Linked DNA regions of Homo sapiens: region 1 is linked to region 2. The links come from fine-mapping of genetic effects on gene expression. Tissue or cell type: blood mononuclear cells. Region 2 holds a variant in brackets; the other region holds the start of a gene. All regions are shown on one strand. Distances are between the middles of the regions.

The links. PIP is the estimated chance that this variant, and not a neighbour inherited with it, causes the effect.
Region 1: CMPK1 starts here. The variant in region 2 is fine-mapped to the expression of CMPK1 in blood mononuclear cells (TOPMed, PIP 0.99).

Annotation. Positions count from the first base shown.
Region 1 is chr1:47,330,468-47,338,552 of GRCh38, reverse strand. It overlaps CMPK1 (cytidine/uridine monophosphate kinase 1), which reads right to left and starts at 4,763. Exons shown (of 6, transcript NM_016308.3): 1 at 4,437-4,763. The coding sequence starts at 4,607. RefSeq lists enhancers at 3,641-3,700, 3,217-4,020, 4,021-4,824 and a silencer at 4,211-4,850.
Region 2 is chr1:47,384,926-47,393,028 of GRCh38, reverse strand. It overlaps LINC01389 (long intergenic non-protein coding RNA 1389), which reads left to right. Exons shown (of 5, transcript NR_126355.1): 4 at 6,673-6,781. Among named protein-coding and RNA genes, the nearest start is that of FOXE3, 27 kb to the left of the region's middle. RefSeq lists a silencer at 4,778-5,072. The variant G/A (reference allele first, on the strand shown) is at 3,172.

The sequences.
Region 1 (8,085 bases), 54 kb after region 2:
AGAGGGAGGGAGGGAAGGAGAGAGGGAGGGAGGGAGGGAAGGAAGGAAGGAAGGAGAAAAGCAAACAAAACTGAAAAACATCAGTACAAATAAATGTGCAAAATCAATCCCAAAACCTCCCTCCAATCTTTCCTTCCCAGTACAGAACACTCTCAGAAGACACTGTATCAGATTTGCCTTTACCTTCTCTAGGTCTCCAGGAGCAATTTGCAGAGCAGAATTCACCTCCAGAGAAAAAATACCAGCTTCCCTCTAACAATACCCACTTCACTAATTTCAGTGCCTTAGAGAGCAAGATATCCCTAAGGGTTTTTGGTTTTCTCTTTTTCTTCTCTTCCTGTCAACTGAAGATTCTGTAGCTAGGACTCAAATATGTACTTCTGGCAGCCTGAGTTGGAAATCAACATACTAAAGTAACAATTTCAGGTGCCCTGTGAGCTGCATTAGCTTCAGCCAGATTAATTGGAGAATTTACCGTGGATTTATGTAATTTTTTTCCTACAGGAAAAAAACCTCCAAAACTTACATTATTTTGGAATTTAGTTTATAATTGCCTGTATAAAAAAATATTGAGTCAAAATAAAGAGATTCACAAAGGAAAAAAACAACATACCGCTGACTTCACTAACAATAGATATTCCAGGCCGGGCACAGTGGCTCACACCTGTAATCCCAGCACTTTGGGAGGCCAAGGTGGGTGGATCACGAGGTCAGGAGTTCGAGACCAGCCTGGCCAACATAGTGAAACCCCGTCTCTACTAAAAATACAAAAATTAGCCGGGCATGGTGGCGCGCACCTGTAGTCCAAGCTACTCGGGAGGCTGAGGCAGAGAATCGCTTGAATCCAGAAGATGGAGGCTGCAGCGAGCCAAGATTGCCCCACTGCACACCAGCCTGGCCGACAGCGTGACACTTCGTCTCAAAAAAAAAAAAAAAATAGATATTCCAGTGTCTGTCTAGCCAGCTAGGGAATAGCAATTGCTAAATTATAAACTATTTGGAATTAGTTGATTGACAGCTTAATAAAGTTTATGGCAACTAGACTCAAGAGAATACTTTTCATTAAAGAAGATAACAGTTTAAGGTCAAATAATTGTTGAAATCTTAATAATATAATACATTACAGAACATATCTCATCATGGAATCTTGTAACTGATAATTAACAAGTTTAAAATATTATTTGCCATTACTGAACAGAATAAAGAATAATTGCAGAATGTGTAGATTATTTCATTTATGTATTTATTTATTTATTTATTTTATTTTTTTGAGATGGAATCTCGCTATGTCACCCAGGCTGCACTGCAGTGGCGTGATCTTGGCTCACTGCAAGCTCCGCCTCCCCGGTTCATGCCATTCTCCTGCCTCAGCCTCCCAAGTAGCTGGGACTACAGGCGCCTGCCACCACGCCCGGCTAATTTTTGTATTTTTAGTAGAGATGGGGTTTCACCTTGTTAGCCAGGATGGTCTCAATCTCCTGACCTCGTGATCCACCCGCCTGGGCCTCCCAAACTGCTGGGATTACAGGCGTGAGCTACTGCGCCCAGCCCTGAATGTGTAGATTATTTTTTAACCAGTGTAGTAGTATGGGTATTATTAATTTAGGTACAGATATTTTAAAGGCATATTATGATTCAGAAACAGCATACTGTATTTAAATGCATTCAAATATAACACGCATAAAGTAATTTAAAAGAAAAATACTATTTTGCAATAAAAATAACCAGGCCAGGCATGGCGGCTCATGCCTGTAATGCCAACACTTTGAGAAGCCAAGGCAGTAAGATCCCTTGAGTCTGGGAGTTCGAGACCAGCCTGGGCAATATAGTGAGCCCTGGTTTCTACAAAAACCTGAAAAAAAGTTAGCAGAGAGTGGCAGTGCACACCTGTCATCCCAGCTACTTGGGAGACTGAGGTGAGAGGATGGCTTGAGCCCAGGAGGCAGAGGTTGGAGTGGGCCAAGATGGTACCACAGCACTCCAGCCTGGGTGACACAGAGAGACTCGATCTCAAAACAAACAACAACAACAAAACCCACCAATAAAAATAACCAATATAATAAGATCAGGAAGTTTAAAGTAGAGGTAATAAGATCAGAAGTTTAAAGTGGAGAAAAAAACTATCTGCATCTGTCTCTGTGTGCCAGATATTTTACCTCATTTAATATTCACAAATACCATACAAAACAGCCATTTCTATGTTTTCCCTTTTCACAGGGAACTAAAGGCAACAACATCTCTGGGCCTAGAGAAACAGTAAATGGCAGAGTCAGGGTTTGAACCTATATCTCTTTGACTCTAAAGTCTTTGCCCCTTCCCCCATCATGCTATTTAAGAAAGATCACATATACTAAACAAAAATTTGAAATCACTCCCACTTTTCACTTGCCATTTATTTATTTATTTATTTATTTCTGAGACGGAGTCTCGCTCTGTCGCCCAGGCTGGAGTGCAGCAGCCAGTCTCTTTACTTTTTAAAAGACAAGTGACAAGGCCAGGCACGGTGGCTCATGCCTATAATCCCAGCACTTTGGGAGGCTGAGGCGGGCAGATCACGAGGTCAAGAGTTCGAGATCAGCCTGGCCAACATGGTGAAACCCTGTCTCTACCAAAAATACAAAAATTAGCCAGGCGTGGTGGCGCACGCCTGTAATCCCAGCTATGCAGAGGCTGAGGCAGGAAAATCGCTTGAACCTGGGAGGCGGAGGTTGCAGTGTGCTGAGATCGCACCACCGCACTCCAGCCTGGTGACGGAGTGAGACTGTCACAAAAACAAAAACAAAAACAAAAAAACAACAAAAGAAAGAGAACCAACAAAAAAAAATTTTTTTAAGAGGATGTAAATGTTATGTATTTTTTTAGTTGGACTAGTTCCACTTTGACACCTAAAATGATTTTTTTTTTTTTTTTTTTTTTGAGACGGAGTTTCACTCTTTCGCCCAGGCTAGTGTGCAGTGGCGCGATATGGGCTCACCGCAACCTCCGCCTTCCGGTTTCAAGCGATTCTCCTGCCTCAGCCTTCGGAGTAGCTGGGATTACAGGCGCCCGCCACCACGCCAGGCTAATTTTTGTATTTTTAGTAAAGACAACGTTTCGCCATGTTAGCCAGGCTGGTCTCGAACTCCTGACCTCGTGATCCGCCAGCCTCGGCCTCCCAAAGTGCTGGGATTACAGGAGTGAGCCACAGCGCCTGGCAAAATGATCAATATTTATAAATACATCTGTCCAACACATAATGACTTGTTGAACTCATCTAACTTTCTCTGGATGCTATTTAGGGAATAAAATACAGGACAGGAGTTGATTGTTATGAACATATAAGGAGAGAAGCAAAAGCCCCATGCTAATATTGGCCATATCCTAGAAGAGGAGGAAATTATAAGTTCTAGGTCAAAAAAACTTTTGTTGGTTACAGGGTTTCAGAGTGATTTCACTAGAGGCCACCAATGGTCGCCTCTTCTGTTTCTAGATATCCTGTTTTCCTTCTTTCCCAAGCATTCCCCAGATTGTCCATGAAGCCTTTTTTTCCCACAGTGTCAATGCAGCTAACCAACCATACATCTAGCTCAAAAATTGTTAAAAGAATTGAACTGGTAACCTGTCTCAAAGCAAAAGAAAAAAAAGTAACAGCATTTTACATTTGGGAGGTGTTTTATATCCTGAGAAAATCTGGGTTCAGAGACTCTTTTTACTGTATTACAAGGGCTAACTGAGGCTGGGAGACAGGAAGTGACCGAGGGCCGAGCGTGAGTTGGCAGCAGGGCCAAAGGTTGAAGCTTGATCTCAGAACAGCACTCCCGGCTTTCCCCATCCCCGACCCGGGCCGAGCCTCAGGGCTGGCTCCGCCCTAAAGCTTGCGGGGACGGGGCTCGAGAGTGCCAGCGGCAGCCCACAGCACGCCTAAAATAACACCCCGCCCCACGGGCCTCCTTTCTAGAGTAAAGACACGTTCGGTGACAGTGCGGAGTTTAGGGAACCAGAGGGAAGGCGCGGAGAAGAAAAATAGGTCTCTCCTTCAGACAACTGTGGGCGCACACGGCCTCTAACCCAAATCCGCGCTCCTGCTGCCTTCACCTGCCACACGATCAGCGACACGCTAACCTCTGCGCGCTGGGGGACCCCCAAAGGTTGGCCTCCGGGATCCCTCTCCCAGCCCACTCTAGAGACGAATCTGGTCCCCAAAATGTAAGAAAAGAAGGGGCGCAGGAACAAAGCGACCTCAAGCGGTGGCCCCCAAGGCGGGCGGGCGCGGACTACAAGTCCCGGCACGCCGCGCGCCGGCGGCCCTCGGCCACTGCCACGCGGGCGGCGCGGTGGCCGCCGGGACTCGTAGTCTGCGGCTCGGCGACTCCGCGGGGCGCGGACTAGGGGCGGCGGGACAGGCCGGCCCGCATCCCGTCAAGCCCCAAGGAGCCCGCCTGCTGCCCGGGCCTCACCTCGACGATGCGGGCGCACTGGGTCCCCTTGCCGGCGCCGGGGCCGCCGAGGACGAACACGACCAGCGGCTTCATGAGACGTGGAGAGCAGAGGAGAATCGGCCGGCGGGTCTGCAGCAGGAAGCTAAGGCCCAGGACGTGGAGCAGCCCGCTGCGGCAGCGGCTCAGCATACACCGCGCCTCGGCCGGACGCTGAGGGAGCTGACAGCGGCCGGCGCGGCGCGGGGCGGGGCGGGGAGGCGGCGGGAGAAAGGGGCGGGCTGAGCCGGCGCCCGCCGCGGCCCCGCCGCCGTGGCTGCCCGGGCGTCCGCGGCCCTGTCGGAAGGGGAGGAGCTTCGCACGGCGGCGGCGTCTCGGCGACACTCGTGCGGTCCGCGCCAGCTTTCCTCCAACCCTTGGGTGGTTATTAGTGCTTTCTGACTGCAGATATTTTATCCTGCGCCCTCAAGTGTCTGGTGCTGAGCTGGAGGCTGGGACGTGATCCGCGGGAGAGCAAAACCTATTGTCTCTGCTCGCAATGAGTTTCCATTCCAGCCAGTGAGGTATGGGGAGGTAGCCAGTGTGAATGAGTAAACACCAGTACATACAAAAGGCAGTACGATTTTGAAGAAATAACAAGTAGGACATAAGATGGCCAGGGTCGCCAGAGAAGGCTTCAGAAGAGGTGACATTCAAGCCAAGACAAAAGGATAGAAAAGAGCGAAACCAGGCAAACACCAGGATAGAGTGTCCCACAGAGAAAAGCATGTGCAAAAAATCTAAGTTGGTTTGGCATGTTAAAGCAATTGAAGGAAGGCCTGGCTGGGCGCGGTGGCTCACGCCTGTAATCCCAGCATTTTGGGAGGCTGAGGCAGGAGGATGGCTTGAGCCCAGGAGTTCGAGACCAGCCTGGACAACATGACGAGACCCCGTCTCGACCAAAAATTTAAAAGCCGGGCACCGTGACCCGTGCCTGTGATCCCAGCTACTGGGATGTTCACTTGAGCCTAGGAGCCGTAATAGCACCACTGCACTCCTGCCTAGGTGACAATGAGACTGCTTCAAAAAAAAAAAAGGAAAAAAGGCCAGTGACAGTGAGACCAGGGCTGAGTCAAATGAGGGGAGAATGGAAGGTGAAAAGTTGAGAAAGTGAGGTCGGTGGCAGATCAGGACTTTTGATTATGGAAAGGAATTTGGGCTGTATTCTAACAGCAATGGAAGCCCTTTAACTCCGTTCGCCTGCCCCCTTCATTAGGGAAGAATCTTAAGGGAGAAGAAAAGGAGACGTTCAAGAACTGAGCCTTGGTGCATACAGGCCTTTAAAAGGCCTTCTGGCCAACGTTAAGAGCTCATTTGATATTTGAGGTAACGGATTCAAAATAATTGAAGATGTTTGGCCATTCAGGCACAGGCAGAGAAGGCAGCTTGTTGCATTTACTGAGGGTTGGGATTTTGCCTGGCAAGTACAACAGAGAGAGGGGGCCAAGTGATGAGAGTGTTTGGAAGAGAATGTTCATGATGCTGTGTGTAGAATCAAAACCATACAGGAAAGCAAATAATGGCACATGAAGCCTGGTAGTGGAGGGGTTGGAGGGTGGTGGGGAAAGGGACCAATGTCTTAGAGCATTGGCCCAAGAAAGATTGCAGTGGGGTATATGAGCAAGTGCTCTGGCAGTATGGATGCTGCTGGTCTGAGTGGGATATTTGGAATTGAAATGTCCCAGCTTCTGAGTTTCTGATGATGCCAAGGTCCAGGGTGAGACCATGGGAATGGAAGACTGAGGCAGAATGCATGTCCTGTTTTTAGAACTAAGAGTCCAGGGTGTTAGATTTGTCGTACAGGTACAAGTTCAAGTCAGATAGTGCTGGAGTGAACAAAGACTATGGGAAAGGAACTAAGCTGTTTAGGGCAGAGTGACCAGGACGTTAGTAAACGAAAGCAAACAGGAGAGGAAGATAGTGGTATAGCCCTCTGTCTGACCACCCCCATTCTCCTTTTTCTTTTGGTGGTCCTTTCTTAGCTCACTCAGCATTTTCTGGCTCTTCCCCATCTCTACTCTCTCTCCTTGCTTTCTTTTTGTTGTTGTTGTTTTTACTTATTCCCATCCTTCCTACCCTTCTTTTCCCATTTATAAGTCCCTCCCTTCTCCCTGTCTCTTTTCCTGTCCTTCTCCTCACCTACTTGCCTTTGTTTGCCCTTCTTTTCCATTCTCCCTTTAATTTCTACCTCTTTCCTCTCCACAACTTCTACCTTTTCCTTCCCACCATAGAAAGGAGAATGGGATATTTTTTATTATCACAGCTGGAAAAAAATTTTTTTGGGGGGGATAGAGTCTCACTCTGTCACCCACGCTGGAATGCAGTGGTGCCATCTTGGCTCACTGCAACCTCCACCTCCCAGGTTCAAGCGATTCTTCTGCCTCAGCCTCCCAAGTAGCTGGGATTACAGGCACCTGCCACCACCCCTGGTTAATTTTTGTATTTTTAGTAGAGAGGGGGTTTCACCATGTTGTCCAGGCTGGTCTTGAACTCCTGGGCTCAAGTGATCCTCCTGCCTTGGCCTCCCAAAGTGCTGGGATTGCAGGCATGAGCCACCGCGCCCAGCCAGGCCTACACTACACTACAGGTGGTGGTGTGCACCTGTAGTCCCAGATGCTCGGAAGGCTGAGATGGGAGGCTGAGGTGGGAGGATCCCTTGAGCCCAGGAGGTGGAGGCTGAGGTGGGAGCAGCCCTTGAGCCTAGGAGGTGCAAACTCCAGTGAGCCAAGATCGTGCTACTACATTCTAACCTGGGCAACAGAGCCAGACCCTGTCTCAAAACAAAAACAAAACATTTTTCTATGGATACTGAAATTTGAATTTATATAATTTGCATGTGTCCCAAAATATTATTTATTTTTATTTTTAAAATCCATTTTAAAATGTGAACATTATTTTGAGCTTGAAGGCTATACAAAAACAGGGACCCACGTTTAGATATGTGAATTTTCACATAAAAAAACACGGCCGGGCGCAGCGGCTCATGCATGTAATCCCAGCACTTTGCGAGGCCAAGGTGGGCAGATCACCTGAGGTTGGAAACCAGCTTGGCTAACACGGTGAAACCCCAGTTCTACTAAAAATACAAAATTAGCTGGATGTGGTGGTGCATGCCTGTAATCCCAGCTACTTGGGAGGCTGAGGCAGGAGAATTGCTTGAACCCAGGAGGTGGAGGTTGCAGTGAGCTGAGATCGCACCACTGCACTCCAGCCTGGCGACAGAGCAAGACTCTGTCTCAAAAAAAAGAAGGCTCCAAACCCTTCAGCTTCTGGGGAGGAGGAGCTAGGACATGGGCAGCCAAGAACAAGGACAATTGGTCATATTGGGAATGGGTAGCAGGAGTATGAAAAAGGCCATATCAAAACAAATGTGTCTTCTTTTCCTTTGTTCACACAATTAGAGTTAAAAGATCTTAAGGATATGGTGTCTGTGAGAAAAAGGGCTAGGAAGCTATTGGCATACTTTTAGTGAAGGCCTTGGGCTAGAGACAAAAAGACAGTCTTTGTTGTTTCCATGATAGAACACCAGAACTAAGGATTCCACACAGGGGTTTGGGTCTGAAACTTCCTAGTAAACCTACTTAAAGCAATATGTGGTGATTTTTTTTTCACAGAGAAAAAAACTTTCTGG
Region 2 (8,103 bases):
GTACCTAGGGGAAAAATATACAGGAAACCTGGCATTGCTTTTTTGAGGGGGGCTTGTGGACAGAGATAATGGGGGTTGGATGAAGACATAATTTTCACTGTTTGAAATCTTTACCATTTATTCTGCCTACATTAAGAAAAAAAAGGCAAGAGAAGCATAATAAATATATAGAGGCAAGTCTTAGAAGAAACGGCTGAGTCTGAAGTCTTTTACGTCATAGAAGGTGTCAGGGAGATGGAGGCTGTTGCTTTTTAACCACGATATGCATTACTTTGATGAGACTATTTTAAAAATTGTTTTTATTGTGCTAAAATAAACGTAACACAAAATTCACCATTTAACTTTTTTTTTTCCGAGACGAAGTCTTGCTCTGTTGCCCAGGCTGGAGTGCAATGGCACCATTTCAGCTCCCTACAATCTCACCCTCCCAGGTTCAAGTGATCCTCCTGCCTCACCCTCCCAAGTAGCTGGGATTACAAGCATGTGCCACCACACCTGGATAATTTTTGTATTTTTAGTAGAGACGGGGTTTCACCATGTTGACCAGGTTGGTCTTGAACTCCTGACACCAAGTGATCCACCCACCTTGGCCTCCCAAAGTGTTGGTATTACAGGCGTGAGCCACCACACCCAGCCCATTTAACCATTTTTAATTGTACAATTCAATGGCATTAAGTACCTTCATGTTGTTATGCAAGCGTTACCACCATTCATCTCCAGAACCTTTTTCATCTTCCCAAACTGAAACTCCAGACCCATTAAACAATACTCCCATTCCCCAATCCTCCCAGCCCCTGGCAACCACCATTCTGCTTTCTGTCTCTATGAATCTGATTACTCATATATTTGGAATCATACAGTATTTGTATTTTTGTGACTGGCTTAGCTTATTTTATGTAGCATAATGTCTTCAAGGTTCATCTGTGTTGTAGCATGTGTCAGAATCAGCCTTTTTGTGGACGAGTCATATTCAGATGAAACTATTTTTTAAATAGAGGAATAGGAGGAGGAGGAAAAAAGGAGGATGTAGGTAGATAATAAGAGATGGCCTAGGTCAGGCAAATGATGTGCTGTTTGCCCGGCATATTAGTTTTCTATTGCTGCATAACAAATTACCACAAAGAGCAGCTTAAAGCAATCCCGTTTATTACCTCACAGTCCTCTGGTTCATATATCTGGGCAGTGCAACTGACTGGGATCTCTGCTCACAGTATTACAACGTCTGAATCAAGATGTCAGTGGGGGCTGGGCGCAGTGGCTCACATCTGTAATCCCAGGACTTTGGGAGGCCGAGGCTGGCGGATCACTTGAGGTCAGGAGTTCAAGACCAGCCTGGCCAACATGGTGAAACCCTGTCTCTACTAAAAGTACAAAAATGAGGCAAGCATGGTGGCGTGCACCTGTAATCCCAGCTACTCGGGAGGCTGAGGCAGGAGAATCGCCTGAACCCGGGAGGGGGAGGTTGCAGTGAGCCGAGATCGTGCCAGTGCACTCCAGCCTGGGTGACAGAGCGAGACTCCGTCTAAAAAAAAAAAAAAAAGATGTCAGCAGGGCTGGGCTGTCATCTAGAAGTTCTTTCAGCCTCATTCACACTGTTGGCAGAATGTTCCTTCCAGCTGTGGAACCGAGGTCCTCATTTCCTTGCTGTCGGCCAGGGGTGAGGGGAGCTCCTAGAAGCCATTCTCCCTTCCTTGCACATGCCCCCACTACCTTCAAAGCCAGTAACGGCAGGTCAAGTACTTCTCATGCCTTGATTCTCACTTCCTTCTCTCTTACCAGCCAGAGAAAACTCACTTTTAATGAACCCATGGGATTTGATTGGGCCCACCCAGTTAATCTACCTTTTGCCACATAGCATAACATAACCTTACAGGTTCAACACACACTCAAAGGGGAGGGCACTGTACAAGGGTGAGGGTCACCGGGGACATCATAGAACTCTGCCTGCCCCAATGACCTTCACCCTTGGATAATTAGCTCTTCTGTGGAATGTGTTACATTACATGGCAAGAATTTTGCAGAAGCAATTAAGGTTACTAACCAGTTGACTTAAGATAGGGAGATTAACCAGGTAGGCCTAAGATAATCACGTGAGCCCTTTAAAAGCAGAATTTTGTCCAGCTGGTGACAGAAAAGAAGTCAGTAGTTCAAAGCATGAGGAGGGCTCTATCTTGAAAGTGGAGAGTGCACGTGGAAGGGACCCTAGAGCAGCCTCTAGTACCAAGGCCACCCCATGGCCAGCAGTGACCATGGTAATGAGGACTTGCTAGGAAATGGATTCTGCCAACAATGTGAATGAGCTTGGAAGTGATTCTTTCCCAGGGCCTCTGAATGAGAGCCAGGCCCAGCTGAAGCCTTGATTTCAGACTTGTGATACTGTGGGCAGAAAACCCAGTCAAGCCTGCACAGACTTCTGACCTACAGAACTGTGAGGTAATAAAATGGATGGTGGTTTTTTTTGTTTGTTTGTTTGTTTTGAGACAGTCTTGCTCTGTCGCCCAGGCTGGAGTGCAGTGCCACGACCTCGGCTCACTGCAACCTCCACCTCCTTGGTTCAAGCGATTCTCCTCCCTCAGCCTCCCAAGTAGCTGGGACTACAGACACGTGCCACCGTGCCCAGCTAATTTTTTTGTATTTTTAGCAGAGACGGGATTTCACCATGTTAGCCAGGATGGTCTCACTCTCCTGACCTTGTGATTCACCTGCCTCAGCCTCCCAACGTGCTGGGATAACAGGCGTGAGCCACCGCACCCAGGGATGGATGTTGTTTTAAGTCACTAAGTTAATGGTGATTTATTATGTAGCAAAAGAAAATTAATACACCTGGCTGTCCCCCTACCCATCTGCTCCCAAAACTCTTATTTTGTTTATGTTCCAAGAGGTGTTTTAGACTAGACTGCAGACAGGCAGACCTGGATTCGAGCTTGCCCTCTATAAGGATTTGCAGTCATGAGCACAGTAAACATTCACTAAACAGCAGCTGTAATGATAGTTTTTATACTCATACTCCCTCTGTAATTGATCCCAATTCCCTGCCCCACTTCTCTGGAAAGTTTGCACACCCTCCCCTGCACTTTGCACTTATTCTCCTACTGCATTATCAGACGTTGCTTCAGCCCCTGTCATGATGAAAGAGCTCTGAGAATGTGGAAGAACACAGTGGAACTTTCT[G/A]GAAGTCTGAAGTATCCAGTGAAGAGGGCTGCTCAGGGAGGGGTGAGTTATCTGTTGCTAGGGTAGCTACCTGTCAGGGATGCTGGAAGGGGTTGACTTCATGACATCTTGAGTCTGCCTCTAGCTTGTGTTTTCAAGCTGGCATTTTGTGGGGGGGGCGGCGTGGTGGGGGGAATTTTTTTTTTTTTTTCAGATAGTCTCTCTCTGTTGCCCAGGCTGGAGTGCAGTGGTGCGATCTCAGCTCACTGCAACCTCCACCTCCCAGGTTCAAGAGATTCTCCTTCCTCAGCCTCCCAAGTAACTGGGATTACAGGCGTGAGCCACTGCACCCAGCCTGGCACTTGTTTTATTGAAATATATATACACACACACACACACACATAAGCCAGGAGGCAGGTGCTAGAAGGTGAGAGACCTCTCCAGCTGGGGTTAATGGGGAAGGCAGAGTCAGGTATTAGAGTGAGGCATTAATTCATTCACTGAATTACTTGAACATGTATTCTTGACTCTGGCAGTCTTGCACTGGGAGATTCTGACATAGACTGAAAAATAGGTGAGATTTTGACAGCTTCTCCTGTGGAAAAAGTTCCAGGTAGAAGTCACATCATGATCAAGACCTGACAGATCCAGTTCTCCATGGAGCAGCCACAGGACAAGCAGGGAGTGCTGAAGCATGCGTTCTGCTAGGAGGGAGGAGGGATGGGACTTGTGGTTGTTTTGGTGGTGTGGGACAGGGAAAGGATGAGAATGAGCACAGTGGATCCTGGAAGGTTGGGGCTGGGATCAAGGAGTCTCCTAGTTCTGTGCAGGGATCCAGAACAGGGAGATGCAGGCTTGTGGGTACAGAAACAATTGACCAGCTGGCAGAAGCCATGAAAGGTGGATGCAGGATGGATCCTGGGCGCCTCTTGGTGGCCATACTGATAACTACACCTGGTAACACCCGGACAGCCAGTGCCCAGCTGATGGACTGCTTCACTTAACTCTGCACTGGGAGGACACCCACACCTACCCCGGACTATCTCTCATTGCAGTAAGAATGATTTGTGTAAATGCATCTGTGCCTGAGGCTGTGTGTCTTGTTGCCCAAATGCGTTGGTGTATACTTGTGTATGAGTGTATGCACGTTCATTTGTGTGTCTGAGAATGTGTATTGGTGCTGGTGACTGCGCACATGTGCAAGTTGTGCATGCATGTATGTACTAGGTGCTAGCATGTAAGTATGCATTTGCATGCACTAATGCCAAAACATGCATCTGTATGTGTGTATGTTTGTGCAGATGTGATCTCTTGTGTGCTTGTGTCTGAGTGCATGTGTGGTAATTTAAGTGTATGGGGCTTGGCTTTCTGTTACACATTGAAATAGTTAAGCTCCATAATCTTATTGTTTGTTTAAAGTTTGCTCTTGGATGCAGGCCTGTTCCAGAATAACTAGCAGATGCGAAAAGCATCCATTATGTATTTTTGCAATTAGCCGAAAACCCAGAAACTTTTCTTAAATGACAGACACAATTCTGTGGGTTGCTTATTGCTGGGAGCCACCTCCTCTCCCGGCTCGTCTAGTGCCCAGCCCCAACCCTGGCCAAGCCAGAGAGGGTTTGCCAACTGTCCCTAGTGAGATGGAAAAACCATTCAGGGTTTCAGAATACAGCTCAAGGGACAGCTTACAGTGAAGAGGAGGAGGAGGAAAACGGAGCAGCCTCCTAAATCTAAAAAGCCCTTGTCAAACTGACTCATGCAGCCCAGCTTCCTAGTCTGGACTCAGCTAAACAGACACTGGATAAAATTCACCTTCCTTTACCTGTTATGAAAGGTTTATCGCTTTATCTTTGCATACTCCTATCTCCCATTATTTGGTGCATGGACCCTCACCCCCTCCAGCTAAGTGGGTCTCTCCTGTCCCTCACTGCTATCTTTTTGCTACTGCTGTTTCTCTCTTTTCCAATGCAAACTGGGCACCTCCTGCCCACCAACAGCATTAATGCCAGTAAACTTTGTTAAGCACTTATCCCAGGCACTGGGGAGGACACCCAGGGAGGGGGTGGGAGGCAGAAACAGAGGCTTAGGGAAACTTCTCAGCATTTGGGTTCTTATGGTAAGGCACAGATCCTCATGATGCCCCTTAGCCTTTCCTCCCCACTTGTATATACAGGGAACTCTTATGTGTCAGAGAGTATGTCTGGAATTCCAGGTGGACTTCAGACTTAGATACCTACTTGAAGAAGATGATCCCCAAACCACAGAATCTCCAGAGTGAAAGACTAAAGCATTCTGCCAAATAAGCATCCAGGGCCTGCGTGCACACTTCCAGGGACGGTGATCATGTCCTCAGGCGCTCCAATTCAGTGTTGGGTGGCTCTGACCTTAGACGGTCTTCCTTATGTTGTTTCCACTGCCCTAGTTCTGCCCTCAAGCCCACATTGAATACATGTACTCCATCTCCCTTCAGAGGATTGTAGACAGTGGTGGTAGTCCCCTGGCCTCTCCTCACCATTTTGTTTTTGGTTTTGATATGGAGTCTCACTCTGTCACCAGGCTGGAGTACAGTGGTGTAATCTTGGCTCACTGCAGCTTCCACCTCCTGGGTTCAAGCAATTCTCCTGCCTCAGCCTCCTAAGTAGCTGGGACTACAAGCACTAGTCACCATGCCTGGTTAATGTTTTGTATTTTTAGTAGAGACGGGGTTTCACCATGTTGGCCAGGTTGGTCTGGAACACCTGACCTCAAGTGATCCACCTGCCTCGGCCTCCCAAAGTGCTGGGATTACAGATATGAGCCACCGTGCCCAGCCTCTCCTCACCTTTTAAGACAGTGGCAGCTGCTAAGTAAGATTATAGAAAGCCCACTATGCCAAGCTGCCATCCATGTGACAACTCCCTTAGTGGGAGAGCATTTGTGATACTGTTGCATGCAGTACTTCCCTCTCACTCTGTGAGCTCAGGAATGGCAGCAGACTAAGCAGCTGTTTAATTTGTGAGCTTTCACTATGGTTTGTCACCAACTGTCAATTCATCAACACTAAGTACCTACTCTGTGCTAGACACTGTGGATAAAAAGACCAAGACTTTTTTTTTTTCAACTTTTATTTTAAATTCAGGGAATACATGTGCAGGTCTCTTAATGGTTATATTGCATGATGCTGAGGTATGGGGTACAATTGATCTTGTCACCCAGGTAGTGAGCATAATTCCCAATAGGTAGTTTTTCCTTGCCTCTCACTCTTTTGCAGCCCCCAGTGTCTATTGTTCCCATCTTTGTGTCCATGCGTACCCAATGCTTAGCTCCCACTTTTAAGTGAGAACATATATTTACTTTTGTTCCTGTATTAATTCGCTTAGGATAATGGCCTCCAGCTTTATCCATGTTGCTGCAAAGGGCATACTTTTGGGTTTTCTTTATGGCTGCATAGTATTCCAGGGTGTATATGTACCACATTTTCTTTATCCAGTCCACCGCTGAAGGGCACCTGACTTGATTCCATGTCTTTGCTATTGTGTATAGTGCTGCGATGAACTTATGAGTGAATGCATCAAAAAGACCAAGTTGAACTTATGAGCGAATGCATCAAAAAGACCAAGACTTGATCCCTTGCCCACAAAGATACAAGGCTGTGAGTTTTCATTATCTGCTCTGATCACTTTGTTTACTGTGGTGGTTCTCAAAGTATCAATATCAGTATCACTTTACACATAAAAGAAATGCAGGGCTGGGAGCGTGGCTCACGCCTATAATCCCAGCACTTTGGGAGGCCGAGGCAGGCGGATCATGAGGTCAAGAGATCGAGACCATCCTGGCCAACATGGTGAAGCCCGTCTCTACTAAAAATACAAAAATTAGCTGGGCGTGGGGCCACATGCCTGTAGTCGCAGCTACTCGGGAGGCTGAGGCAGGAGAATCGCTCGAACCCGGGAGGCAGAGGTTGCAGTGAGCCAAGATCGCGCCACTGCACTCCAGCCTGGCAACAGAGCGAGACTCTGGCTCTAAATAAATAAATAAATAAATAAGAGGCCAGGCGCGGTGGTTCATGCCTTCAATCCCAGCACTTTGGGAGGCAAAGGCAGGGGGATCACTTGAAGTCAGGAGTTCGAGACCAGCCTGGCCAACATGGTGAAACCCCACCTCTACTAAAAATACAAAAATTATCCAGGTGTGGTGGCATGTGCCTGTAGTCCCAGCTACTTGGGAGGCTGAGGCAGAATCACTTAAACCTGGGAGGCAGAGGTTGCAGTGAACCAAGACTGCACCACTGTACTCCAGCCCGAATGACAGAGTGAGACTCTGTCTCAAAAATAAAATAAAATAAAATAAAAGTAATTAAATTAGAATTTCTGGGGGCAGGGCCTGAGGCATTGGTTCTTGTTTTAAATATGGTTAAAAAGACATTCAACAAATGCTCAGCATACTGAATGAAATCCTGCTACATAGTAACATAGTGGTTCTGGAGTATCACAGGATACTACTTTGCTTTTCCAAGTGTTTGTTAGGAATGACTGAGGTAAATGCATGTTAGTGGCCGGGCACGGTGGCTCAGTGGCTCACACCTGTAATCCCAACATTTTGGGAGGCCAAGGCAGGCAGATCACTTGAGGTCAGGAGTTCGAGACCAGTCTGGGCAACATGTCTCTATAAAGTTTTTTTAAAAATTAGGTGGGCGTGGTGGTACATGCATGTGGTCCCAGCTACTCGGAAAGCTGAGGTGGGAGGGTCGTTTGAGCCTGATCAAGGGCAGAGGTTGCAGTTGGGCAACAGAGCCAGACCCTGTCCTTTTTAAAAAAAAAAAAAAAAAAAAAAAACATGTTGGTGTTGAGGAGTAAGAGCTGGGAGAAAGGAGAACTGGGTTCTAGGCCTAGTTCTGCTCCTAACTGTCTGGAGGGCTTTGAAGAGGACACTTTCCTTCTTTCAATATACAAACATTTATTTATCTACTCTGTG